Homo sapiens: one gene and its partners. Changing the gene in region 7 together with the main gene of any one other region gives a genetic interaction. Each region holds a gene or a part of one and is shown on either strand. Other genes may lie near its edges. The genes, in order: SLC39A3, PTEN, SREBF2, GEMIN5, VPS45, DAZAP1 and EED.

Evidence for each region.
Region 1: changes in EED (region 7) and SLC39A3 together harm fitness less than expected from each alone (positive genetic interaction), as found in Homo sapiens cells (one large-scale study listed by BioGRID).
Region 2: changes in EED (region 7) and PTEN together harm fitness more than expected from each alone (negative genetic interaction), as found in Homo sapiens cells (one large-scale study listed by BioGRID).
Region 3: changes in EED (region 7) and SREBF2 together harm fitness less than expected from each alone (positive genetic interaction), as found in Homo sapiens cells (one large-scale study listed by BioGRID).
Region 4: changes in EED (region 7) and GEMIN5 together harm fitness less than expected from each alone (positive genetic interaction), as found in Homo sapiens cells (one large-scale study listed by BioGRID).
Region 5: changes in EED (region 7) and VPS45 together harm fitness less than expected from each alone (positive genetic interaction), as found in Homo sapiens cells (one large-scale study listed by BioGRID).
Region 6: changes in EED (region 7) and DAZAP1 together harm fitness less than expected from each alone (positive genetic interaction), as found in Homo sapiens cells (one large-scale study listed by BioGRID).

Annotation. Positions count from the first base shown.
Region 1 is NC_000019.10:2,737,218-2,741,505, forward strand, and holds the start of SLC39A3 (zinc transporter ZIP3), read right to left. Parts: upstream 2,801-4,288; 5' UTR 2,728-2,800; intron 163-2,727; 5' UTR 41-162; coding exon 1-40. UniProt on the Homo sapiens protein: Transporter for the divalent cation Zn(2+). Mediates the influx of Zn(2+) into cells from extracellular space. Controls Zn(2+) accumulation into dentate gyrus granule cells in the hippocampus.
Region 2 is NC_000010.11:87,870,125-87,873,624, forward strand, and holds part of PTEN (phosphatidylinositol 3,4,5-trisphosphate 3-phosphatase and dual-specificity protein phosphatase PTEN), read left to right. Parts: intron 1-3,500. UniProt on the Homo sapiens protein: Dual-specificity protein phosphatase, dephosphorylating tyrosine-, serine- and threonine-phosphorylated proteins.
Region 3 is NC_000022.11:41,864,105-41,867,604, reverse strand, and holds part of SREBF2 (sterol regulatory element-binding protein 2), read right to left. Parts: intron 775-3,500; coding exon 325-774; intron 1-324.
Region 4 is NC_000005.10:154,903,712-154,907,211, forward strand, and holds part of GEMIN5 (gem-associated protein 5), read right to left. Parts: intron 1,766-3,500; coding exon 1,652-1,765; intron 919-1,651; coding exon 796-918; intron 1-795. UniProt on the Homo sapiens protein: The SMN complex catalyzes the assembly of small nuclear ribonucleoproteins (snRNPs), the building blocks of the spliceosome, and thereby plays an important role in the splicing of cellular pre-mRNAs.
Region 5 is NC_000001.11:150,095,276-150,098,775, reverse strand, and holds part of VPS45 (vacuolar protein sorting-associated protein 45), read right to left. Parts: intron 1-3,500. UniProt on the Homo sapiens protein: May play a role in vesicle-mediated protein trafficking from the Golgi stack through the trans-Golgi network.
Region 6 is NC_000019.10:1,417,586-1,421,085, reverse strand, and holds part of DAZAP1 (DAZ-associated protein 1), read right to left. Parts: intron 2,883-3,500; coding exon 2,716-2,882; intron 2,421-2,715; coding exon 2,355-2,420; intron 1-2,354. UniProt on the Homo sapiens protein: RNA-binding protein, which may be required during spermatogenesis.
Region 7 is NC_000011.10:86,258,253-86,261,752, reverse strand, and holds part of EED (polycomb protein EED), read right to left. Parts: intron 1-3,500. UniProt on the Homo sapiens protein: Polycomb group (PcG) protein. Component of the PRC2/EED-EZH2 complex, which methylates 'Lys-9' and 'Lys-27' of histone H3, leading to transcriptional repression of the affected target gene.

The DNA of each region.
Region 1 (4,288 bases), on a different chromosome or scaffold from region 7:
CCACCATGCACAGGATTTTGGCCACTAGCAATTTCACCATGGTGGCGGCTTGGGCTGCTCTGGTCACTGCAGGGCCAAACCATCTGTGGGCGCACACCCAAGTCCCACGATGTGCTACCGAGCCCAACCACACAGTTGGAGGCTCATGTCTCAGTCCAGCAACTGTGAACATCAGGGGCACTGCATTAGCTTTCTTTCTTTTTTCTTTTTTTTTTTTTAGACAGAGTCTCGCTCTGTTGCCAGGCTGGAGTGCAATGGTGCAATCTCCGCTCACTGCAACCTCCGCTTCCTGGATTCAAGCAATTCTCCTGCCTAGTAGCTGGGATTACAGACACGCGCCACCACTCCCAGCTAATTTTTTTTGTATTTGTAGTAGAGACGAGGTTTCATCATGTTGGCCAGGCTGGTCTCGAACTCCTGACCTCGTGATCCGCCTGCCTCGGCCTCCCAAAGTGCTAGGATTATAGGCGTGAGCCACTGCACCTGGCCAGTTCTTCAGTTTTGGAACTCGGACTGGCTCTCTTTGCTCCTCAATCTGCAGACAATGTATTGTGAGACCCTGTAATCGTGTGCAATTAATACTTAATAAACTTCCCTTTATATATATAACTATTCCATTAGTTCTGTCCCTCTAGAGAACCCTGACTAATACACTGTCTCAAAAAAAGAAAAAAGTTCATCAAAATTAAAAAAAATCCAGGCTGGGTGTAGTGGCTCACACCTGCAATCCCAGAACTTTGGGAGGCCGAGGTGGGTGGATCACCTGAGGTCAGGAATTCGAGACCAGCCTGGACAACATGGTGAAACGCCGTCTCTACCAAAAATACAAAAATTAGCCGGCCGTGGTGGCAGGCACCTGTAATCCCAGCTACTCTGGAGGCTGAGGCAAGAGAATCGCTTGAACCCAGGAGGCAGAGGTTGCAGTGAGCCAAGATGGCACCACCGCACTCCAGGCTGGGCAACAAGAGCAAAACTCCATCTCAAAAAAAAAAAAAAAAAAAAACTAAATAAAATACAAAATTCCGCTCCTCAGTCTCCCTGGCCATATTTCAAGCGCTCAGTAGTCACACAAGCCTACTTGACTTCTGTGGTTACCGTATTTGACAGCAAAGGGAACACTCTCATCACTGCAGAACATGCTATTGGATGGTGGTGGTCCATGGCTTCCCCATGCCCCGAAATAAAGTCTAAACTCTGTACCCTGAGGCTGAAGCTCTGCATGACAAGCTCCTGCCTCGCCTCGGCCCTCACTGGTCCTTTCTGTGCCAAGCTTGCTCGTGCCTCAGGACCTCTGCATGGGTTCTCCTCTCTCCACCTGGAACACTGCTCTCTTTCCCCTGACCTTCCAGCGAGGCCTCCTTCTTCTTTCTTGCTTCTCTGCATCCAGGACCCCTCAAAAGGGCCTCCCTCGGTTGGGAGTGGTGGCTCACACCTGTAATCTCAGCACTTTGGGAGGCTGAGGTGGGCAGATCACCTGAGGTCGAGAGTTCGAGACCAGCACCTGAGGTCGAGAGTTCAAGACCAGCCTGGCCAACACAGTGAAACACTGTCTCTACTAAAAATACAAAAATTAGCTGGGTGTGGTAGTGGGCACCTGTAATCCCAGCTACTTGGGAGGCTGAGGCAGGAGAATCACTTGAACCCAGGAGGTGGAGGTTGCAGTGAGCCAAGATCAAGCCATTGCACTCCAGCCTGGGTGACAGAGTAAGACTCTGTCTCAAAAAAAAAAAAAATTAGCTGGGCATGGTGGTACGTGCCTGTAATCCCAGTTACTCGGGAGGCTGAGGCAGGAGAATTGCTTCAACCCAGGAGGTGGAGCTTGCAGTGAGCCGAGATCGCGCCATTGTACTCCAGCCTGGGCTGCAGAGCAAGACTCCGTCTCAAAAAAAAAAAAAAAAAAAAAAAAAGGGCCTCCCTCTCTGCCCCTGGCTGACTCCTGCCCTAAACCATATCCCTGTACCCGCCGGAAGGCCTGCTGCAGAACAGATACTCAAAAACCGCTGGCTGAACACATGGACGAGGGGAAGCGTGTGGCCACTGATAAGGGCCGCATTTTACCTGATGCAATGGGCCAAAGTGAAGTCGGTTTCACCCTGGACCCCAAAATGTCACCGTTCTTAGGAGGAATCTCAGCTCCTCCCCTGTCCTTGAGTTTTCCCCAACTGGGTTTTCTCCCCCACCATCAGCCCCAAGCGCCTCATGGCCCCGCTACCTCACTGCATTCAGGTCTTCGGGTCACTGCTCAGATGTCTCCACTCAGAGCTCTCCCCGCCCCCTTCCCTGGTGTTATTTTCTTTTATTTTGTGCTACAGAGGGAGCTAGGAATTACATTATTTTAAGTCATTTAAAGTCGTCCCTCCCCCCCGGCGGTGAGCTGGGCGGGACCAGGCTGTCTGTCTTGCTCAGGGCCAGCTGCACCCAGCGCAGAGCCACCCAGGCACACAGTAGGCGCCCAATAAAGACCTGTCCGGCATCTGGATACCTCAGTCTGTACAGTGAAGGTGAGGGTGGCCTGCACGCTCTCAAACCGGAGGCTGCTCGGGCCGGGATGAGGAGGGCACGGGCTCATTCATTCAATCAGCACTTATTGAGCGCCTTCTGTGTGCCTCGCGCTACCGGGCACCGGAGACGGGCCTCGGCTAACGTGCGGGTAGAGTCCAACAGACCCCCGGCCGCTCAGCGCCGCCCCGCCCCGCCGCCCCAGGTCCTCTCTCTGCCCGCACCTACCTCCCGGGGGCCCCTCGTCCGCCGACTGGCGCCGCTGCACGCCCAACGGCCGCGCAGTCTCGACCCCACAGACGCGGCCCGGAGAGGCCCCGCTCGGCGCGGCTGGTCCACGCCCCGCCCACGCCCCTGCCCATTGGCCTCCCCGAGACCCGCTGGCAGAACTTTCCATACTATTGGCTGCGAAACCTGCCACTCATATGCGACTCCACCTCTCCTACCGGCACAGGAAAGGGGTTTCCTCCCGCTGAGCGGCGGGCGCAGCCACCAAGCGGCCCCGGCGGGAAACCCGGATTGGCGAGGAACGGTTCCGGCAGGGTTGGGTTTCCAGAGCTGTCCAGGGGCGCCTGGTGCTGAATCCCGCTTGGAAAGAGGCTTGGAGGTGGATGGGAAGGGATTTCCAACGGAGGCGGCTCCTCTCTCAGCGTCCTCGCTGCTGATCCCCTTACCGACGGCTGAAGAAGCAGATTCATCCCTTCAACAAATCTCTGTTGATAGGCAGGAGGAGTAAGTCCAAGAGATCGACTGTACATCATGGTGGCTACAGCTCGTAACAATGCATTGCATACTGCAAAATTGCTAAGAAAGTAGATGTTACATGTTCAAACCATGAAAAAATAAGTATAGGAGGTAACGCGTAAGTTAAAAACCAAATCTTGGCAGGGCGCAGTGGCTCACACTTGTAATCTCAGCACTTTAAGAGACCGAGGCGGGAGGATCGCTTGAGTCCAGGAGTTCAAGGCCAGCCTGGGCAGCATAGTGAGACCCCATCTCTAAAAAAAAAAAAAAGGTTTTTTTTGAGACAGAGTCTCGCTCTTGTCACTCAGGCTGGAGTGCAATGGCGCGATCTTGGCTCACTGCAACTTCCGACTCCCGTGTTCAAGCGATTCTCCTGCCTCAGCCTCCCGAGTAGCTGGGATTATAGGCGTGTGCCACTATGCCGGCTAATTTTTGTGTTTTTAGTAGAGACGGGGTTTCACCATGTTGGCCAGGCTGGTCTTGAACTCCTGACCTCAGGTGATCCTCTTACCTTGGCCTCCCAAAGTGCTGGGATTACAGGCATGAGCCACTGCGCTTGGCCTGATGACTTGATTCTAACAAATAGAAAATGGCAAATGAATGGGATGTCATTCTGCGATTAGGCTATGAGAGATTGTGACTTCTGTTTTGCCAGCAGAGCCTGTCTCTCGCCTTCTCAGCCTACGTGTCTTGACAAAGCAAGCTAAGATGCTGGAGAGATCCAGAGGGAAAGGAACTGAGGGTGTCCTCCAGCCAACAGTCAGCAAGGCAATGAGACCCTCAGCACAAGCGTCCATAAGGAACCAAATGCTACCAACAGCCATGAACGTGATCATGGAAGAGGGTCCTGCCCCAGTTGAGCCTTTGGATGACTGCTTCACTTCAATTGCAGCCTTTGAAACACCCTAAAACAGGGCTGCATGTGGTAGCTCATGCCTATAATCCCAGCACTTTGGAAGGCCGAGGTAGGCAGGTCACTTAAAGTCAGGAGTTTGAGACTAGCCTGGCCAACACGGCAAAACCCCATCTCTACTAAAAATACCAA
Region 2 (3,500 bases), on a different chromosome or scaffold from region 7:
AGTACCTGCCACATTGTAAATACTTAAATGGTAGCTACTGCTCTGAAAAACTGTAATTTCAGGTTATGTATGTAGGGAAATTATTTGTATTTTCATTTATGGTGTATGATTGTAACTGAATTTCCTCAGTTTGGGCCATGTTAGGATTTTGTTTCAAGTTATAAGTGTTTTTAAAAATAAGGGTATTCCTTTAGGAAGTCTGGGTATGACATGTCTGTGATTTTGCTGGTTCATCACAAATGGGAAATAAATCTCTGCTAACTCAAACTGTTGACCAAAGTAAAATTAATTATGCCAATCAAAAACTATTTGCTTTAAAATATAAAAGGCAAAAACTTCCTATTAGCATAATGAAGTAGAATTTTTAAACTTTGTTATAATCTTAAATTTTCTTTAGTGTTGAAGATAGGTCAACTTAACTATCATACATTTTTATTCACATAAAGTAAACTCTGCCTCAAATGTAATAAACTTAATATGAGTTATGTAAACTTTGGTCAATAGAGGTATATTTTTTAGCATTTCCTTTTGAAAATTTCAGCCTTTTGAGGGAGTCTTGCAACTGAATGTCAAGTTACATTTATTACAATAAAATGGACACTTAATATAATCTGTAATGCATTAACATAATATGGGAACTTTTAAAGTATTCAGTCTCTGTATTATTGAGTCCTATTTCCACATTTGGCCAGGATTCTCAATATGATTTAGGCCCAAGACGTGGGAAGAAAGAAGTAAAGAACTAAAGGATTTTTTTCTTCATTTTTTTAATTGAATATGGGGAAAGATGGAATAAGCTTATCTGTCCAGTAAAGGCCATTATGTGTACATAGGGATTATTATTTTTCCCCCCCTTGGGCTGTACTGATTTCCCAGATGTACCACAGCACTCTTAGTAGTGAAGCACTTGACTTCTAGTGAGTGGATTTTTTGTGTGTGTGTTTTATATTGCAGAGTGAATACACTCTGTCTGATACTATGTGACTTTCTGATTATGTGATTTTTATGCATTTTATGTGTTTTGTAAACTAGCTGTATTTTTGGTCCATGTCTAGGTTGTAGAATTGAATTGTGCATTTTGGCATCTGAGCACAGCTGAGTTTTCTAAATCAATCTCTCTCCTTGCACCTAGTTTTTGCTTTAGATCACTACCTAAGACTTACTGTTGATTTAATATTAGAGCACTTAAGCATAGCTTTGACTTTTATTTCCTTTGATTTTTGTAGATTTTCAGGCTGAAGTACAATAAGGTTCTCTGTTCTTTACTAGTAATTGCAAAGATTGTATTCTGTGAATTTTATTTGTTTAATACTTTTGATCTTTTGAAGAGGATGTAATTATTTAAGGTATTATGAAATGCATTGTGATTTGAATTAGATACTCTTTGGAGATGGAGTTTTGCTGTTGTTGCCCAGGCTGGAGTGCAATGGTGTGATCTCGGCTCACCACAGCCTCCGCCTCCTGGGTTCAAGCAATTCTCTTGCCGCAGCCTCCCAAGTAGCTGGAATTACAGGCATGCGCCACCACGCCCGGCTAATTTTATATTTTTTTTTTCAGTAGAGATGGGGGGTTTCTCCATGTTGGTCAGGCTGGCCTCGAACTCTTGACCTCAGGTAATCTGCCTGTCTCAGCCTGCTAAAGTGCTGAGATTACAGGCATGAGCCACTGCGCCCGGCCTCAGATACTCTTTTAATTAGATGCGTTTAAAAATTTAACCCACCATTGCTGGCATGAATAGATGTATTTTTAGAGTGATTCATAAATATCGTATACATGTTTAAAGTTACAAACTTTTTGCTTATTTCAAAATGCAGGATTCTTTTCCATTTAAAATTCCCTCTCTTTGTGAGACTTCTTTTTGAGTATTCTGGTTACTCTAAACTGATTGGAGATGAAATTAGATAGAATTGAAAACTGTACTTTTAAAATGAAATTTTGGGGATGTCATTAAGCTTGATTTTTTAGGTTTTTTTTTTAGTGTGTATTATAAATTATTTTACACTGATTGTCAGCGATAAAATGGAATGCCTGGGATTTTTTAAAATTTATTTTATTCATTTTTATAAGGTAAAAACAGTGTTTTGCTAGGCTTAATTTGACCATGTTGTAAAATTTATTGTATACCTTGAAAGAATCATTTATGAAAGATACTGAATTAGCTAATATATACTCTGTCTTATGTAGTTTTTGATTAACAATACACTTTTTAAATCATTAGCTCATTTGATTTTGCAAAGAAGAACAGGTAACCTAAGAGGCAGACAGAACAGGCATTACTTTTATTTTTCTTTCTTTTTTATTTTATTTATTTATTTATTTATTTATTTTTTGCAGCTTAGGAATTGTAGCTCCAGTGGAATCAGTATCTTGTTAATGGCTAGTGAAAGACTGAGTCTGAAGAAGGATGCAGGACTTTTTTGGCACTTGGTGCAGTATTTTTCCCATTATGTTACATGAGTGGTTCTTAAACTTCAGTGTGTTAGAACAACCTGAAGGGCTTATTAAGCTATGGATTGCTTACTCCACCCTCAGAGTTTCTGATTCAGTAGGTCTGGATTGGGACCTGAGAATTTTTATTTCTTAGAAGTTTTCAAGTGATGCTGATGCTGGTGCTCTGGGGATCACACTTTGAGGACCACCAATGAACATTATCTCCCACCAAGCAAACCCTTAACATGTTATACTCCTTTAGGTTATTAGAATTTATACATGCATTATTTCATTTGACCTGTAAACTCTAAGTAACTTTGCATGGAAAATGTTATCCTGATTTTATAGACGAGATAGTGAGTTTAGAAAGGCAGTATGGTGGAATGGAGCATAGATTTGGAGTTGGCTAGACCTAAAGTCCAGATTAAATCTCTGCTCAAGGCTGGGCGTGGTGGCTCATGCCTGTAATCCCAGTGCTTTGGGAGGCCAGCGTTGGCAGATTGCTTGAGTCTGGAAGTTCGAGACCAGTCTGGGCAACATAGGCAGACCCTGTCTCTACAAAAAAAAATACAAAAATTAGTCGGGTGTTATAGTGCGCATTGGTAGTCCCAGCTACTGAGGAGGCTGAGGTGGGATCACCTGAGACTGGGACTTTGAGGCTGCATTGAGCTGTGATTGGGACACTGTACTCCTGCCTGGGTGACAGAGTGAGACCCTCTCTCAAAAATAAATAAATAAATACATCCCCGCTCAGCCACTTATCAGTTACGTAGATACACTGCCTAACCTTAGTGAACCCTGTTTCGACAACTCCAAAATGGGAGTAAAAATCCTAAACTTGTACAGTGGTTTTTTAGTTTTGTTAAAAGTACAGGTGAGGTTTTTTTCAGAGTATTGGTTGCCATCTGAGAGTGATCCCCTTTCACCTCCTCTAGGACTTTTAGCATTTTCTGGAGACATTTTGGTGGTCACAGCTGGGGTGGTAGAGTGTGCTATTGGCTAGGGGCTTGAAGCCAGTGATGCTGCTTAACATCCTATATGGCACAAGACCCCTCCCCATCAACAAAGAA
Region 3 (3,500 bases), on a different chromosome or scaffold from region 7:
TCAATCTCCTGACCTCGTGATCCGCCCGCCTTGGCCTCCCAAAGTGCTGGGATTACAGGCGTGAGCCACCGCGCCCGGCCGCTTGCTGGATTTTTTAACCAAGTATTTTTGAATTAGGCGCAATAGATATTAAGGTATTTGAAGCTGCAGAATGTGACATGCTCCTGTACCAGTTCTTATTGCCAGTTACCAGAACCTCATTCAGACAGGACCATATTGATATACCTGCCATTCCTGAAGACGACAGAAATATTTACAGTGTCTGCAAACTGGCACATAAACATTGGAACCAACCAACCACTACCATTCTAACTTCTGAATCACCTTGAAAGCTAGTAGCTGCATTCTGGTATATCAAAGGCTGCTGGATGATCCTCGTCTGCGGAGTGGTGCTGAATGTTGGCGTGATCATTACCGTCTGTTGTTGCAGCTGAGTTTGAGGTTGAGGCTGGGGCTGGGGGCGGGGCTGAAGAATAGGAGTTGCCCTGGGTGTGGTGGGAACTGAGGTGGGAGAAACCTTGACTTGCAGAGTTGGAGCCTGTGGGGAGGCCGCCGAGGGAGAGAAGGAAGGTAATGTGACCTGGGTGAATGACCGTTGCACTGAAGGGTCCACAGCTCCGCTGCTGCTGCCCCTGCCATTGCTGCTGCTGCTGCTGCTGCCACTGCTGCCGCTGCTGCTACCACTACCACCACTGCCAGGAAAGGAGCTACACAGCTGTTCTGAAAACAAGTCAGGGAACTCTCCCACTTGATTACTGACAAATTGCAGCATCTCTGTGAACAAAAGAAAAGGAGTAATTTTATTGCTATCCAAAAAGTGAACTTTCAAACTTGCTTAAGAAACTAAGGCATGAAAACTCAATGACTTTCCTAAGACCATGGCAGAAATGGGTCAGGAAACCCTTACCTCTTTCTTGTGGGGATCATCTGGGCCAAGATGGCTGCCCAAGGTCCCAGGACAACAGGACAGGACTTTATCTGTTTGATGTTCTTTTCCCTCCTCACACTCACCTCCAGGCCCTTTCTCTCATTTTCTTTCTTTTTTCTTTTTGAGACGGAGTCTTCCTCTATCGCCCACGCTGGATGGAGTGCAGTGGCGCGAACTTGTCTTACTTCAACCTCTGCCTCCTGGGTTCAAGCGATTCTCCCGCCTCAGCCTCCTGAGTAGCTGGGACTATAGGTGCACGGCACCATGCCCGGCTAATTTTTGTAATTTTAGTAGAGACAGGGTTTCACCATATTGATAGGTGGGTCTCGAACTCCTGACCTTAGGTGATCCACCCACCTCAGCCTCCCAAAGTGCTGGGATTACAGGTGTGAGCCACCGCACCCAGCCTCTCTCTTTTTCCTGATTGTTTTGATCATAAAAGGAACTACCTTTGTACTAGATGGGTGCTGTTCTGTCGAAGGTACCAAGGGTCCTTTTTTACAGCTGGAAACACTGAGGCAGCGAGTAGGGAGTCACTGTCCTAAGGCTGTGAGTATAGCGGTTTTGGCTTGTGAGGCCACCTCTAATCCTAGCACTGCAGACCCAAACTTGCTCTAACCTCTTTCCTCCTCACCACAGGGAGGCTCTAGGCCTCCTCTCCAAGCTGAGTAAAACCCTGGGCACTGTTGGTATTCTTGGAAACACTCAGGGACAACCAAGTTGATGGCCCCTAAGTCATGGAGCTTCAGGGATGCAAAGAATGGAAAAACCATATATGAAGTCCAGGAGAGGAAAGTAACTTGGCCAAGGTCACACAGCTTGTCAGGGTACAGCTAGGATTAGAACCAGTTCTCTGCCTCCCAGCTTTGTGTTCTTCTACCACAACACAGTGCAGGTATGTTGCCAGGCCAGGACACAGCAAGCCTGCCCCACCCTGAACTCCGTGCTTCCCAGGGCCCATGCTAGCCCTTGTCTGGTTGTGCCCCTTTTCTCTGGGCAAGGAGTCTTGGGTCCAAAGGGATTTGTCCACCTGGAGACCTCGCTTCCCTTTCTAGATCATGTTCCAAGTAGCTGGGACCCTTAAATTCCCAGCCCAAAGGGTCTCAAGCCTACTTCCAGGGCCTCTTCCCTGGTCAATCTTCCCAAAGGCTTTCCAAAACCCAACTTAACCCACAACTACCCCATCATCTCTCACGACTCCCTTCTTTTTCATATGACTGGTCCCTATAGAAGTCAGGAGCCTCAGCTTTGTCCCAGATAGTTTCAGACCTACAATTCTCTACATTGTCCATATTCTTTTCTCTTTTCTCTCTCCAATACGTTCCCAAGAAGCTACTGCTTGTTCTTGAACTATGGCCCCTCCTTTCCAAACCTTCAAGGCCATGTGATGCTCTGATTTAGACACCAAAACAACAAAAACCACCACACCACCACTATAAAAAAATAAAAGGAACCATCTCCATTCCCCCAAACCTCCACCAAGATGTCCTTCTCAGGTCTCTGATGCTGTGTGTGTGTGTGTGTGTGTGTTTTTTGGGGGATGTGGGGGCCTGGAGCCTGGGGTATATTTGTATATCTGACAAACAGAAAGCTGCTGAGACCGGTTGTGGTGGCTCATGCCTGTAATCCCAGTGCATTGTGAGGCCAAGGTGGGAGGGTCACTTGAGGTCAGGAGTTTGAGAACAGCCTGGGCAACACAGCGAGACTCTGTCTCTCTTTTTTTTGAGATAGGGTATTGCTCTGTCACCCAGGTTGGAGTGCAGTGTTGCAATTTCAGCTCACTGCAGCCTCCACCTCCCAGGCTCAAGCGATCCTTCCACATCAGCCTCCTGAGTAGCTGGGACCACAGGTGTGCGCCAACCATGCCCGGCTAATTTTTGTATTTTCTGTAGAGACGAGATTTCACCATGTTGCCCAGGCTGGTCTCAAACTCCTGAAAAGCAACCTCTCGGTTTGGCCTCCCAAAGTGCTGGGACTACAGGCATGAGCCAGGGCACCTAGCCAGATCCCTTCTCTGAACACAAAACAAACAAACAAAAAAACACAAAGATTTTTTGGGCCGGGCGCGGTGACTCACGCCTATAATCCCAGCACTTTGGGAGGCCAAGGCGTGCGGATCACAAGGTCAGGAGATCGAGACCATCCTGGCTAACACGGTGAAACCCCGTCTCTACTAAAAATACAAAAAATTAGCTGGGCGTGGTGGTGGGCGCCTGTAGTCCAAGCTACTCGGGAGGCTGAGTCAGGAGAATGGAGTGAACCCGGGAGGCAGAGCTTGCAGTGAGCAGAGATCGTGCCACTGCACTCCAGCCTGGGCAACAGAGCGAGACTCAGTCTCAAAAAAAAAAAAAAATATATATATATATACATATATATATATATTTTGATATTTTGTGTGTGTGTGTGTGTGTGTGTATATATATATATATATATATATATATATATATATATATGCTTGCAGAAGGATAGGAAAAATAAATCATAATTAAATGTAAATAGGCCAGGGGTGGTGGCTTATGCTTGTAATCCCAGCACTTTGGGAGGCCAAGGCAGGTGGATCACCTGAAGTCAG
Region 4 (3,500 bases), on a different chromosome or scaffold from region 7:
GTGACTACCCTTGTTAGGGTAGTGGGAGACAGTAACCGGGAGGGAGGATGGTCCTCCATTCCTGGGGAGGAGAAACAGAGGACTGGGAGGAAGATTTACTTTGAAAAAAAAATTAAAAAAAAATTTTTTTTTTTAAATAGAGAGAGGGTCTCACTATGTTGCCCAGGCTGGCCTTAAAGTGAGCTCAAGTGATCCTTCTGCTTCAGCCCCTTAAGCATCAATTTTATTTATTATGTGCATCCCTTTTCCACATGTAAACTTCAAATTTAAAAAATAAAGTTATTAAAATATCAAAATAGTGGACATTAAATGAAGACTTTGAAAAACAAAAATAAAACAACCCTTCAAAACAAAACTTACAAAGCAAAAGCTTCCATCAAATTTTTTTCTAAAAAAATGCCATATTATGAGCATATTTCCAATAAGAAAAAAAGATTTTTTTCTCCATAGGATACTGTTCAATGGGGAAAAGAGTTGAAGGAGTTTATTCATGCTGAGATACTTAGGCCAACATACCAATTCTGGCACACAGATGGCTGGGAGGAATTAGATTTAGAATAAAAGCAGAGCGCTACATTTCAAAGCCATGGCAGTGCTGACGGTGGGTCACAATGGGGAGTTTGGCAGCAAGGTGTAGGGGTATAGGGATGTGGAGGGAAGGGAGAGCTGGAGAACATAAAAATACAGAAAACAATTTAGACATTTCTTTGGGCATTCATTTAATAAATAAGTAAACATCCCTTATATACCAGTCCCGGAAGACTATGGATGGGCCAAGGAAGTACATTTTTGTACCTCTGGAGTGCTTTGCAGTTGCTAGTACCAAACAGTCCTGATGAAGCTCCTCTTTGGATCTGTGGTCCAGGCTTGTACTCAGGGGAAGCAAGGAACGAGCTTTTCTCTTCTTGATTAAGGTTTCTGAAATTTAATAAAGTACATACTATCTGAAGGAGAACTGATCAGAAACATAAAACGGAATGCCTATTGTGTGAATGTAACCTACTGGCAGGACGACACCACAGGCAGAGAAAGCTCCTCCTCCTAATAAAGAGGCTTTCAAAATAAATTTGCTGGGGGCATTGTTCACAATACACACAAAAACGCTCTTGCTAACATTTATGATGTAGTGTCAACAACTGCAAAACATTTCATCAAGTGCTAAAAAAAATTCAAAAGCATGACCCAAAATGGAAGTGGAAGTCTGGGCACAATGGCTCACGCCTGTAATCCCAGCACTTTGGGAGGCTGAGGCGGGCGGATCACTGGAGGCCAGCAGTTCGAGACCAGCCTGGCCAACATGGTGAATCCCCGTCTCTACTAAAAATAACAAAAGTTAGCTGGGCATGGTGGCGGGCGCCTGTAATCCCAGCTACTCGGGAGGCTGAGGCAGGAGGATCGCTTGAGCCCGGGAAGTGGAGTTTGTAGTGAGCCAAGAGTGTGCCACTGCACTCCAGCCTGGGTGACTGGAGTGAAAATCTGTCTCAAAACAAACAAAAAACAAACAAAAAACCCATAATCAGAAAACCTACAAATATTTTGAACCTATAAAAACAAACAAGAAACCACACTGTTTTTTGACAGTTGCGTGTAATATATGTAATATTTTAGGCTGCTTTAACAAAATACTGTATTTTAATTACTAGATACCAACCTGGCTTCTCTTTTGGTGGCTCCTTTTTCAGTAAAATGACTTTGTTATTAATGGTGACTTTTGACTTTTCAAAGCCTGAGGAAACTGGAGTGCAGATAACTGGTTCTCTAGAAACTACATCATGGGGGAAAAAGGAAAAAAAAAGTTAAGGATAACAATAATACAGAATTTCAGTTCTTTGTAAAAATTAAGAGCCATTCCAAGCTTAGCAATATAATCAATTCATCTATTACCAAAACTTTTGAGATAAAATGCACTGGAAAAGAAGTAGGAGTAGTTTCCCCTTTCCCACCTCCCAAACTAGCTGTTTTCAGGAATCTGTAAGTCTATTACTTTGGTTTTTTTTTTTTTTTTGAGACGAAGTCTCACTCTGTCGCCCAGGCTGGAAATTCAGTGGCGCAATCTTGGCTTACTGCAACCTCTGCCTCCTAGGTCCAAGCAATTCTCCTGCCTGAGCCTCGCCAGTAGCTGGCACAAGCCACCATGCCTGGCTAATTTTTGTATTTTTAGTAGAGACAGGGTTTCGCCATGTTGGCCAGGGTGATCTCAAACTCCTGACCTCAGGTGATCCACCTGCCTCAGCCTCCCAAACTGCTGGGATTACAGGCGTGAGCCACCGCTCCTGGCTTACTTTTTTTTTTTTCTTTTGGTTAGAGATAAGATATAACTGTTGCCCAGGCTGGAGTGCAGTGGGTGCAATCACAGTCACTGAGGCCTTAACCTCCTGGGCTCAGGTGATCCTCCCCTCCTCAGCCTCCCAGAGTGGCTAGGACTATAGGCACAAGCCATTATCTTGGTAATTTTTATATTTTTTGCAAAGATGGGGGTTCCCTATGTTGCTTAGGCTAGTCTCAAGCTCCTGGGTTGAAGCAAGTCTCTTTCCTTGGCCTCCCATAGTGCTGGGATTACAGGCATGAACCACCATGCCCGCCTTACTTTGAACTTTGACTAAGGAAAAAGCTTCCAGCCCTCCACAACTTTATACCATAAGCCAAGGAGTTCCTATACTTTGCTCAGGTGACAAAGCACTTTTTACATTTCTAGGTCATAAAGTACTAATTGCATATTTAATTACACTAACAGGAGTAACTTTAATAATAGAGAATACTAGGTGTATGCAATATGGTGTCACAATCCTGAGCACAGGAACTTTTTAAAAACAACTTGTTGATCCATGTTTTGTATAGCCATTTTGTGAAAGAAAGACTTTTTAAAAAAAAGAAAAATAAAGAGATGGGGGGTCTTGCTGTGTTGCCCAGGCTGGCCTCAAGCGGTTCTCCTGCCTCAGCCTCCTGAGGATCTGGGACTAGAGGTATGTGTCTCTGTACCCGACTAGAAAAGCATTCTGATGAGCCAAAATAATAAATCCATTAGGCTTTTTGCTCTTTATTTACCCCAACTATGTGTCTAACAGCTATCCCTTGGGATGGAGAGCATCAGGAATGCCTTGTATCCTATATTCTAGCCATTTCAATACTGTCACATCAATGGATTCTGTTTTAGAATTAAGTATGAGTTACTGCTTCTACTTACACTGTTTGCTATTTAATCGTTTATTTTACCAGGGACCAGATATTTATCACTTGGTCTGACAAACCATTCTCAACAGGTCCCGAGTAAATGTACAAAATAAAAAGAGTGCTAAAATTTTTACCTAACAGTTTTTTTGTTAGTGATAGAACACTGTTTTGTGAGACATCTGAGAGCCATCACTACAGCTTAACTCACTAGAAAAACCTAATAACCATTCACACATTTTTTTTCTGTGAGAAGACAGAAAGCCGCGTACAAACTCCACGTAAGGGGGTGAGAGCTTGCAAGTTCCCACAGTGGTGGTAGCTTCTAGGTC
Region 5 (3,500 bases), on a different chromosome or scaffold from region 7:
TTTGTGGATATAGCTATACTGCCAAACAGCTTAAACACTAATTTAACAGCTAAGGGCTAAAAAAATTTCCACCAGTGTTCTGGTTTTGCAAAGTTGTGTTCTTGCCACATTTCCTTTGATATTTTCTATTATTATAGCAACAATAAAACCTAGAATTTCTATTATGATGAGACAAATAATAATAAATACCACTATAATCAAGGACTCTTTTCAATATGATAATACAGGGCCAAGAAAGTGGCTAGAGCTGATAGTGTGGCCAAGTGAATACAGAGCCAGAATGTTTTAAAGGGTTGTTTATGAACTTCAAAAATCTAAATTTTGTATAGCATCAATTAAGTTTATTCTCTGGTTTAAATTTTCCAACTATAAATATTGGCATATCAACTAGAAGAGATGCCTATAGAATTTACCAAACATCTATTGAACACCTATTATTTGTAAATCACTGTGTTAAACATTGTGAAAACCCCAAAGATTAACAAAACATAATACTTACTTCAAGATTACAATACCTAATACAATAACTAATAGGAAGGATAGATATGTAACTAACTACTGTCTCAATATCCAGAGGTAACGACTATTAACAACTTCTTGATTATTCTTTCAGAAATAATTACTGTAGGCAGGGCATGGTGGCTCATGCCAGTAATCCAAGCACTTTGGGAGGCTGAGGCAGGCAGATTGCTTGAGCTCAGGAGTTTGAGACAAGCCTAGGCAACATAGCAAAACCTTGTCTCTATAAAAATGCAAAAATTAGCTAGGTACTGTGGCATGTGCCTGTAGCCCCAGCTACTTAGGAGAATGAGGTGGGATGGCTTAAGCCCAAAAGGTGGAGGCTGCAGTGAGCTGAAATCACGCCACCACTCTCCAGTCTGGGCTACAGAGCCAGACCCTGTCTCAAAAAAACAAACAAACAAACAAAAAGAGTTACTGTATTTATACATATATGTGCTTGTGAAAATATATTATATATATAATATACATACATATGTATAGTCAAGCACATATTTATATACATGTACACTTTTTTTGTTTTGTTTTGTTTTGTTTTGAGACGGAGCCTTGCTCTATCACCCAGGCTGGTGTGTAATGGCATAATCTCGGCTCACTGCAACCTCCACCTCCCTGGTTCAAGCGATTCTCCTGACTCAGCCTCCTGAGTAGCTGGGACTACAGGTGCATGCCACCACGCCTGGCTAATTTTTGCATTTTTAGTAGAGACAGGGTTTCACCATGTTGGCCAGGCTGGTCTCAAACTCCTGACCTCAAAGAATCTGCCCGCTCGGCCTCCCAAAGTGCTGGGATTATAGGCATAAACCACTGCACCCAGGATTATACAGTTTTTTTACCTGAAAGAAATGTTATGGCTGGGCACAGTGGCTCATGCCTGCAATCCCAGCACTTTGGGAGGCCGAGGCGGGCGGATCACGAGGTGAGGCGGGCGGATCACGAGGTCAGGAGTTCGAGACCAGCCTGACCAACATGGTGAGACCCCATCTCTACTAAAAATACAAAAATTAGCCAGGCATGGTGGCATGCACCTGTAATCCCAGCTACTCAGGAGGCTGAGGCAGGAGAATCTTGAACCCAGGAGGCGGGGATTGCAGTGAGCCGAGATGGCACCACTGCACTCCAGCCTGGGTGACAGAGCAAGACTCTGTCTCAAAAAAAAAAAAAAAGAAAGAAATGTTACAACATCCTGCTTTTCTATCTAATATATCTTAAAAAGCTTTGCATATCACCCGTGAGGAGTTATGTCATTTAAAAAAAAAAGAATACGTAATATTGTACTGTAGTTTAGGTAACCAGCCCTCTATTAATAGATATTTAGCTTGTTCCTAGTTTTTTTGCTATTACTTCAGTGAACATCCTGGCTTAAGTATCTTTGTGTACTTGCACAGGAATATCTATACAGTAAGCTTTTAGAAGTAGAATTGGTAAATAAGAGTATTTTCAAGTCCTTTGCAGTATTCCTTCTGTTAGGCATGGCCAGGAGGTGGTATAGGTATGTTCTGTGACACCCACTGTAGTTTTGTAACCATTTCTTTGCCTTCTTCCTTCAAAATTTCCACTATCTTAGAAGCTCATAATGTAGCTGCACCGTTTTCTCCTGACCTCCTTTCCTGGTCACTTTTATTCCATGAAGACTTTAGCTCTGGCTTATTTGTCCTCCTTTTTCTCCTTCTCTTTTCAAGATTGTCAGTGACTTTAACATCACTGTGGATTACTCATCTAACATCCTGGTCTCCTTACCAATCCTGATCTTTTCTTTTACCCACTACAACCACCCACATCCATGCTTACAATCTAAACTTCTTCGTTACAAGTATCTGAACCCCCTATGAAATCTTGAATTCAAAATATCTTTATCCAATAACTACCTCTCAACTTCCAATTTACCTGTACTAATACTCTTCTGTAATAATTCTTTGGCCTCATCAAATCTCCAATTCATTCACCAATACCTTTGTCATGATCCAATACACTCTCCTCTTGTTTCCATTTCCCCAACTAGTTGCCTTTTCCATGTTTAATCTGGAGCAGTTCAACATTTCCAGAGGTTTTAATATTACTAATGTTTTTGTCAACTCTCAATATGTGACATTTCTACTTGTTATCTAATAGACATCTCCAACTGAACAACAAAACTCTGTTTCTCCTCAAAGCCTGAGAGTTATTCTTGACTTCTCTCTTACCCTTGTTCCATAAATCTGTGCCATTAAATATGACTATTGATTCTGGCTTCTCTCTCAGCCTCCTACCCAAACCACTTCCATTTCTCACCTGGACTACTGCATTCATCTCCTCAGTAGTCTCTCTGCTTCTATTTTTGCCTTCAATAATCCATTCTTACCACAAATATCTTTTAAAACACAATTAAGTTCATGTTACTCATATGCTTAACTCTTCAATGGCTTCCTATGACATTAAAAAAAAATCTCTTTACTAGGGTCTTCGAGAACCGATGTGATCCAACCCTACCTATCTTTCAACCTCTTATTTCCTCCTTATTCACTATGCTCCAGCCAAGCAGGGCTCCCTTCTGTTCCATTAACTTGCCAAATTCTCTCTTTCTTCAAGACCTTTGCTCTGGTGTTTCCCTCTGCTTTGGATGCTTTCTCTCCTAATCATAGTGTGATTGCTTTTTTTTTTTTGAGATGGGGTCTCACTCTGTTGCCCAGGCTCGAGTGCAACGGTGCAAATTTCAGCTCACTGCAACCTCCGCCTCCCAGGTTCAAGCGATTCTTCTACCTCAGCCTCCTGAGTAGCTGGGATTACAGGCGCCTGCTACCCACGCCAGGCTAATTTTTGTAGTTTTAGTAGAGACAGGGTTTTGCCATGTTGGCCAGCCTGGTTCAAACTACTGACCTCAGGTGATCCTCCCGCTTTGGCCGCCCAAAGTGTTGGGATTACAGGCGTGAGCCACCGTGTCTGGTCTGGTTCTTTCTTATGACTCAAAGCTCATCTTAAATATCACCTCTCAGAGAGGTTCT
Region 6 (3,500 bases), on a different chromosome or scaffold from region 7:
CGGAGGACATAAAGGCCAATCCGCGCTGGTTTAAAGAGTCAGCTGAAAGCCAGAGCAGAACACTCCACAAGCCCGCTAAGTCCAAAGACACTGGGCTCTGCTGAGACACTTTCTCACTTTTCTAGAGAGACCCAAGGAGACAGGGATTGAGCATTTCTGCAGAGCTACATTTCAGCTAAACGGACCCACGACACAGTGCGTGCCTTGCCTCAGCTATTCCGAATTACAACCACTGCCACGTGGAAAAGTGCTCCAGTGTGAAGGCAGGGACTTTAGGACGGCAGGGGAAAGGCAGCAGCGACGACGAAATGAGCAGAGAGGAAGCTGGATTTCAGGCTGTACATCTCCAGCAGGTGACAATGATGGCTACGGAAACCTCCAGCAGCTCAAGAGCTGTGTGAAACACTGGCCCAAACCACACAGCCCCTTCTGCCGGCCTCCCACTGGCAAGGGCGCCTGCTCCTGGGCACCACTTCCCGGGGCCTCGGCGCTCACTGGGTGGCCAGAGCCAGGAGTCTCTGGTCCAGCTCCCGGGCTGCCCTTAGGGCTGGGGCTGCTCTCCTCCTGCCCCCACCCACCAACCATCCTTTTTTTTTTTTTTCCCTATCCAAGGCTATCACATTTTAAGTTGTTCCAACTGCTTTGAATAAAAGACTATAAACCTTTGAGGGTGAGTGCTCGCCGCCGTGACGGTCGGGATGGTTTCATGAGTGTGCGCGTGGGGTGAGTGCTCGCCGCCGTGACGTTCGGGGTGGTTTCATGAGTGTGCGCGTGGGGTGAGTGCTCGCCGCCGTGACGTTCGGGGTGGTTTCATGAGTGTGCGCGTGGGGTGAGTGCTCGCCGCCGTGACGTTCGGGGTGGTTTCATGAGTGTGCGCGTGGGGTGAGTGCTCGCCGCCGTGACGTTCGGGGTGGTTTCATGAGTGTGCGCGTGGGGTGAGTGCTCGCCGCCGTGACGTTCGGGATGGTTTCATGAGTGTGCGCGTGGGGTGAGTGCTCGCTGCCGTGACTGTAGGGATGGTTTCATGAGTGTGCGCGTGGGGTGAGTGCTCGCCGCCGTGACTGTAGGGATGGTTTCATGAGTGTGCGCGTGGGGTGAGTGCTCGCCGCCGTGACTGTAGGGATGGTTTCATGAGTGTGCGCGTGGGGTGAGTGCTCGCTGCCGTTGACGATCGGGATGGTTTCATGAGTGTGTGCGTGGGGTGAGTGCTCGCTGCCGTGACGGTCGGGATGGTTTCACGAGTGTGTGCGTGGGGTGAGTGCTCGCTGCCGTGACGGTTGGGATGGTTTCATGAGTGTGTGCGTGGGGTGAGTGCTCGCTGCCGTGACGGTCGGGATGGTTTCATGAGTGTTTGTATGGGTCAGAATCATCAAGTGGTGCAGTTTACTACGTGCCCATTATATCTTAAGAAAAGCTAGAGAGACATTAATAACCAGATGGAATATGAACCTTGGATTCCAGTCTGAAAAAAACCAGCTATGAGAGACACTTGTGAAACAATTCTGGAGCTGGGAACACGGCCTGGACACAGATGACACGGGATTCCCTGCAGCCGCTTTCCAGCGTGCTGACGGTGGGTGCATGCGAGGGGTGGCCGTCATTTTAGGAGACGCACCCTCCGGTCCTTAGGAATGGTGTATGTGGACAGAGATGGATGTAAATACATATAGACCCCACCCTGCTGCCCACACTGTGGAGAGGCTGGCACCCGGTGCCTCAGCAGGCCTCCAGGTCTGCACTGTCCAGCACGTTCTATGGGGCTAAGAGCTTTCCCATCTGCACCGCCCCACCAGGCTCCTGGTGCCGGTGTGAGAACTGCAGGGCTGGAGGAAGGTGAGGTGTGGGTGGTGGTGAGACCCAAATGCCAAGGAGACCCCATGCCAGGACAGTGCCCTGTCGGCCAGGCAAGCACCAGGGCGCAGGTCAGAGAACCCAAGTTGCCACGTCAGGGGATCTCAAGTGGAGCAGTAAAGTGGCCAGCACGAGCTGACACAGCCCGGCCCAGCCCCGGCAGTGGAAGGATGGCCCACCTCTGAGGAGGGCCAGGCAGTGGGAGGGGGCAGGCCCGGCACAGAGGGCACACAGGGCACAGAGGGAAGCTGACTGGCTCCTGATAATCAGTGGCATGAGCTGTCATTTTTTTTTTCCCTAAGATAGATTAGTAAGAATTTTCTTGGCTGTAAAACACTCACGGCACTGATAAATCTGGGTGATCCTCAGCTGCTCGAGTGCCAACCCAGAAGACCTGCGTCGCCCTCAATCTTAACGAGCGACAACAGCAGATTGAAGGCACGCATTTCCTTTCCACGTGGAGTGGAGAACACACAAGGAGGCCGCCCGGCCCAGCCCCTTACCCATCCTTCCTTCGGCCGTGTTCTCTCCGGCTGCATCCCCCGGGGTGTGCATGGCTTGGGGTCGATCTGCAGGAAATTTCAAATCAGCTGGTTGTGAATAAGAGGCTGTTTCTCTAGGAAAGAGGGTGTCAGCACAACAGCAGCCACGGCACAGCAGCCCGGCCCGCCCCGCCCCGCCGGCTCCATTCACCCTGTATCCTCCTGCAATATCCAGCCTCAGCACCAAGGCTTAATCCTTCCCAATCGACCCCACGTTCAAACATACTCTAACGCAAACATCGGTCAGAGTCCAGGAAAAAATGAAGCAGAGGAAGGACAGGGGAGACAGAGAGCGGGTGTGAGCTCCCGGAAGGGCACTTACGTTTCGGCCATCTAGCGTGTGCGGTCTGCTGGCCAGCACCGTCCCCACACAGTTTGGGTCTTTAAATTTGACAAACCCAAAGCCTCGAGACTGGTTGGTGGTTTTATCTTTCATGATAACACAATCTACGACTTCTCCATATTGGGAAAAGTAGCTGCGCAGAGTCTCTGCTCAGAAATCGGGAAGAAAACACAAACACACAGGGCCAGAGCATTAGGCACGTGCCTGGCAGTGCTGCCGGCACGCACACTCCTCCAGTCCACCAGCCACGCACCGAGCGATGCTGCACTGGGGGTGGGGGGTGTACGGGAAGCGCTGGGGAATTCTGCCCAACACACACTTGAGGTCCTCACGTAAATCAGGGGCTGCCAGTGAGCACAGCAGTGGCCAGCGGTTACAACCTGACTTTGTAGGCGTCCAGGAAGGCAACGTTTAAGGCAAGGCAAACAAGACAACTCTGAATGCTGGCAGTGGCCAAGGAGCGCCGACTTTGCTACACACTCTTTCCTCCTATTCTGAACTCAGTAACAGCCTGGCCAGCCCCCAGCCCTCTGCACTTCCAGACAACAGCTGTCTGCCTCCACAAGCCACCTCAGCCCGGAGCTAGGAACCTGCAGCCTGAGGTCTTCCCTGTAACTTGGGATGGAAATACCAAATTAACAGTCTCAGAGCAAATACACACTTACTCTGTCCCCTGCCCAGAAATCAGAACAACGTCAAAAGGACTTTAAAATATCCAAGACAGTAGCAAGAGGCGGGCAGACACAACTTGAAGGCCGAGGTCC
Region 7 (3,500 bases):
GCCATAGCTTCTGAAGGTACAAGCAGCAAATCTTGGCAGTGTCCATGTGGTGTTAAGTCTGCAGATGCAGAGAATGCAGGAACTGTGGAGGCACGGCTTCCTCTCTAGATTTCAAAAGACATCACAAAGAGCCTGGGGCTCCAGGCAGAAACTTTTCAGAAGGGCAGAGCCACACAGCAGTTCCTACTACAGCAACACCTGGTGGAGCCATGGGGAAAAAGCCATCCCCCAAATCCCAGAACTGCTGAGCTACCAGGGCACACCACCAGCCTGCAAGAGCTGCAGGCACCCGACTCCAACTCATAAGATGCTATGTGGGCTGCACGTGGCAAACCCATAAAGATGGGGCTGCCCAAGGCCTCTGGGGCCCAAACTCCACACCCAGCATGCCCAGAAGGCAAAACATGGAGCCAAGGAAGATTATTCTGGTGCCTTGGATTTAATCTTGTTTGTTCTGTTGAGTTTTGGATTTACTTGGGACCAGTTACCCTTATTCTTGCCTATCTCTCCTTTTTGGAAGGGACTGTCTATCCTATGCTTATCCTACCACTGTATTTTGAAAATAGATAAGATGCCTGATTTCCCAGACCCACAGATGGAGAATTTACCTCAGCAGGAATCCTGCCTTGAGTCTCACCCATATCTGATTGAGGATTTGAATTTTGGGGGCTAGAGGCAGAATGCTACAGCTTAAATGAACCCCCGAAAAAGCAGGTTGGGAAACTTAATCCCAATGCAGCAGTGTTGGGAGATGAGACCTAATGAGAAGCGTTAGGTCATGAGAGTACCACTCTTATGAATGAATTAATTCCAATTATATATTAAAAAAAAAAAAGGCTTCAAGTTCAATTTCTTGTTCTTACTTTCTAATGCCAGGTTAAAGTGGACTAAGACAGTAAGTTCAGAAATATTCATGTGGTCTGAAAAATATTTTAAGCATATTTATCTCAAATAACTTTCTTTAAATAACCTAATTTGATGGAAATATACTTTTGAAATAAAATACAGATTTGACATAAGCAATTTTATCCCACAGAACAAGATACTAGCTTTTCCCTTCACCATACTCACATTAAAAAATTGAAAGGGGACTGAGATTTATGATTTTTACAGTAAGCTGAAAACATAACTACATATATCATGCACAATTTTATAGAATGACAGTCCCTCTTCAAAAATTATGCAGCTATAATTTGAGCAATGTTATATTAAACATTAATAAAGAATGTACAGCAGTAGCTCACACCTGTAATCCCAGCACTTTGGGAGGCCAAGGTGTGAGGATCTTTTGAGGCCAGGAGTTTGAGACCAGGTTGGACAACATAATGAAACCGTATCTCTACAAAAAATTTTTAAAAATTAGCCAGGCATGGTGGTGTGCACATGTAGTCCCAGCTACTCAGAAGGATGAGGTGGGAACATTGCTTGAGGCCAGGAGCTCAAGCTACAGTGAGCTGTGATCACATCACTCTACTATAGCCTGGTTGACAGAGTGAGATCCTGTCTCTAAAACAGTATTTAAAAAAAAGAAAGAATGTAAAGCAAAGACACGTCATGTAAGCTTGAAATATAACAATGTTCATTCTGTCTGTGAATATAAATGCATCACATAAACACCCCAGAGGTAGTAATACATGTGAAAATTAACAGTGCTGTAAAAATGATTCCTTGATTTCAATTTTGTACAAGCTTTTGTATGGACATGTTATTTCTGTTGGGGATACATATGTACACCCCCACCCACACAACCCTAGGATATACATACATATGTAAACATCTAGGATTAGTGACTCTGTAACATTTTGAGGAACTGCCAGATTGTTTTTCAAAGTAGTTACATTTTACATTCCCACCAGCAGTGTCTGAGAGGGCTCTGATTTCTTCTTGTGCCAGTCAATACTTGTTAGTATCTAACGTTTTTATTACAGCCACCCTAAGTAGGTGTGAAGTGGTATTTCATTATGGTTTTGATTTGTATTTCCTTAATGATTAATATGTTAAACATCTTTTCATGTGCTCAGTGGCCATCTGTGTATGCTCTGTGAAGAAATGTCATTCAGAACTTTTGGCCATTTTTAAATTGGGCTGTCTTTTTATTGTTGAGCTATAAAAATTCTTGATACACGTCCCTTATTAGCTGGGAATCATGGCTCATGCCTGTAATCCCAGCAGTTTAGGAGGCCAAGGTAGGAGGACTGCTTGAGGCCAGGAGTTTGAGGACCAGTCTAGGTAACACAGGGAGACCTCATCTCTACAAAAACATTTTTTACAAAATTAGCCAGGTATGGCGGCACGTGCCTGTAGTCCTAACTACTTGGTAGGTTGAGGCTACAGTGAGCCATGATCACACCACTGCACTCAACCTGGGTGACTGGGCAAGACCCTGTCTCCAAAAACAAAAAATAAAAATCAAAGTCCTTTATCAGAATGATTTATAAATATTTTTTCTCCTTTTGAGTAGGCTTTTTTACTTTCTTGATAGTATCACTTGGAGCAAAATTCTTATTCATGCTCAAACTTCTGATTTTTAAAAATGCTCTTACTGACACAATAGAGGAAGACCAGGGTTAAAAGTTGTGATGTTGGGCTGTGCGCAGTGGCTCACGCCTATAATCCCAGCACTTTGGGAGGCCGATGCGGGTGGACCACCTGAGGTCAGGAGTTTGAGACCAGCCTGGCCAACATGGAGAAACCTCATCTCTACTAAAAATAAAAAAAATTAGCCAGGCATGGTGGAGGGCGCCTGTAATCCCAGCTACTCGGGAGGGTCAGGCAGGAGAATCACCTGAACCCAGGAGGCAGAGGTTGCAGTGAGCCGAGATAGAGCCATTGCACTCCAGCCTGGGCGCCAAAGCAAGACTCTGTCTCAAAAATAAATAAATAAATAAATAAATAGAGGCAGGACGCAGTGGCTCACACCTGTAATCTCAGCACTTTAGGAGGCTGAGACAGGCGGATCAACTGAGGTCAGGAGTTCAAGACCAGCCTGACCCATGTGGAGAAACCGTATCTCTACTAAAAATACAAAAATTAGCCGGGCATGGTGGTACATGCCTGTAATCCCAGCTACTCGAGAGGCTGAGGCAGGAGAATCTCTTAAACCCGGGAGGCAGAGGTTGCAGTCAGCCGAGATTGCACCATTGCGCTCCAGCCTCCGCAACAAGAGCGAAACTTTGTCTCAAAAAAAAAAAAAAAAACCAAAAAACAAAGAAAAGAGAAAAAAAAAGTTGTAATATTTAGAACAAGTGAGGCATTACGGTCTATACAGTTGTTCAGAAATATCTGAGCCCCAATTAGTGTTATCAAGAGACAAGAAAAAGTAATCAACTCTTCCTAGAGGTAGTGATTTCCAAAATGCAATGCTTTCCCTTTATGGGAATATTTCAAATAACTTATCCTGAAAAACGTAGCATTTTTAAGAAATTCTATAGGAAATCCTTTATAAAACAAAAGCTTTTTTAAAAAATAAAAAAGCAATATGAATTTTCATATGTAGTATT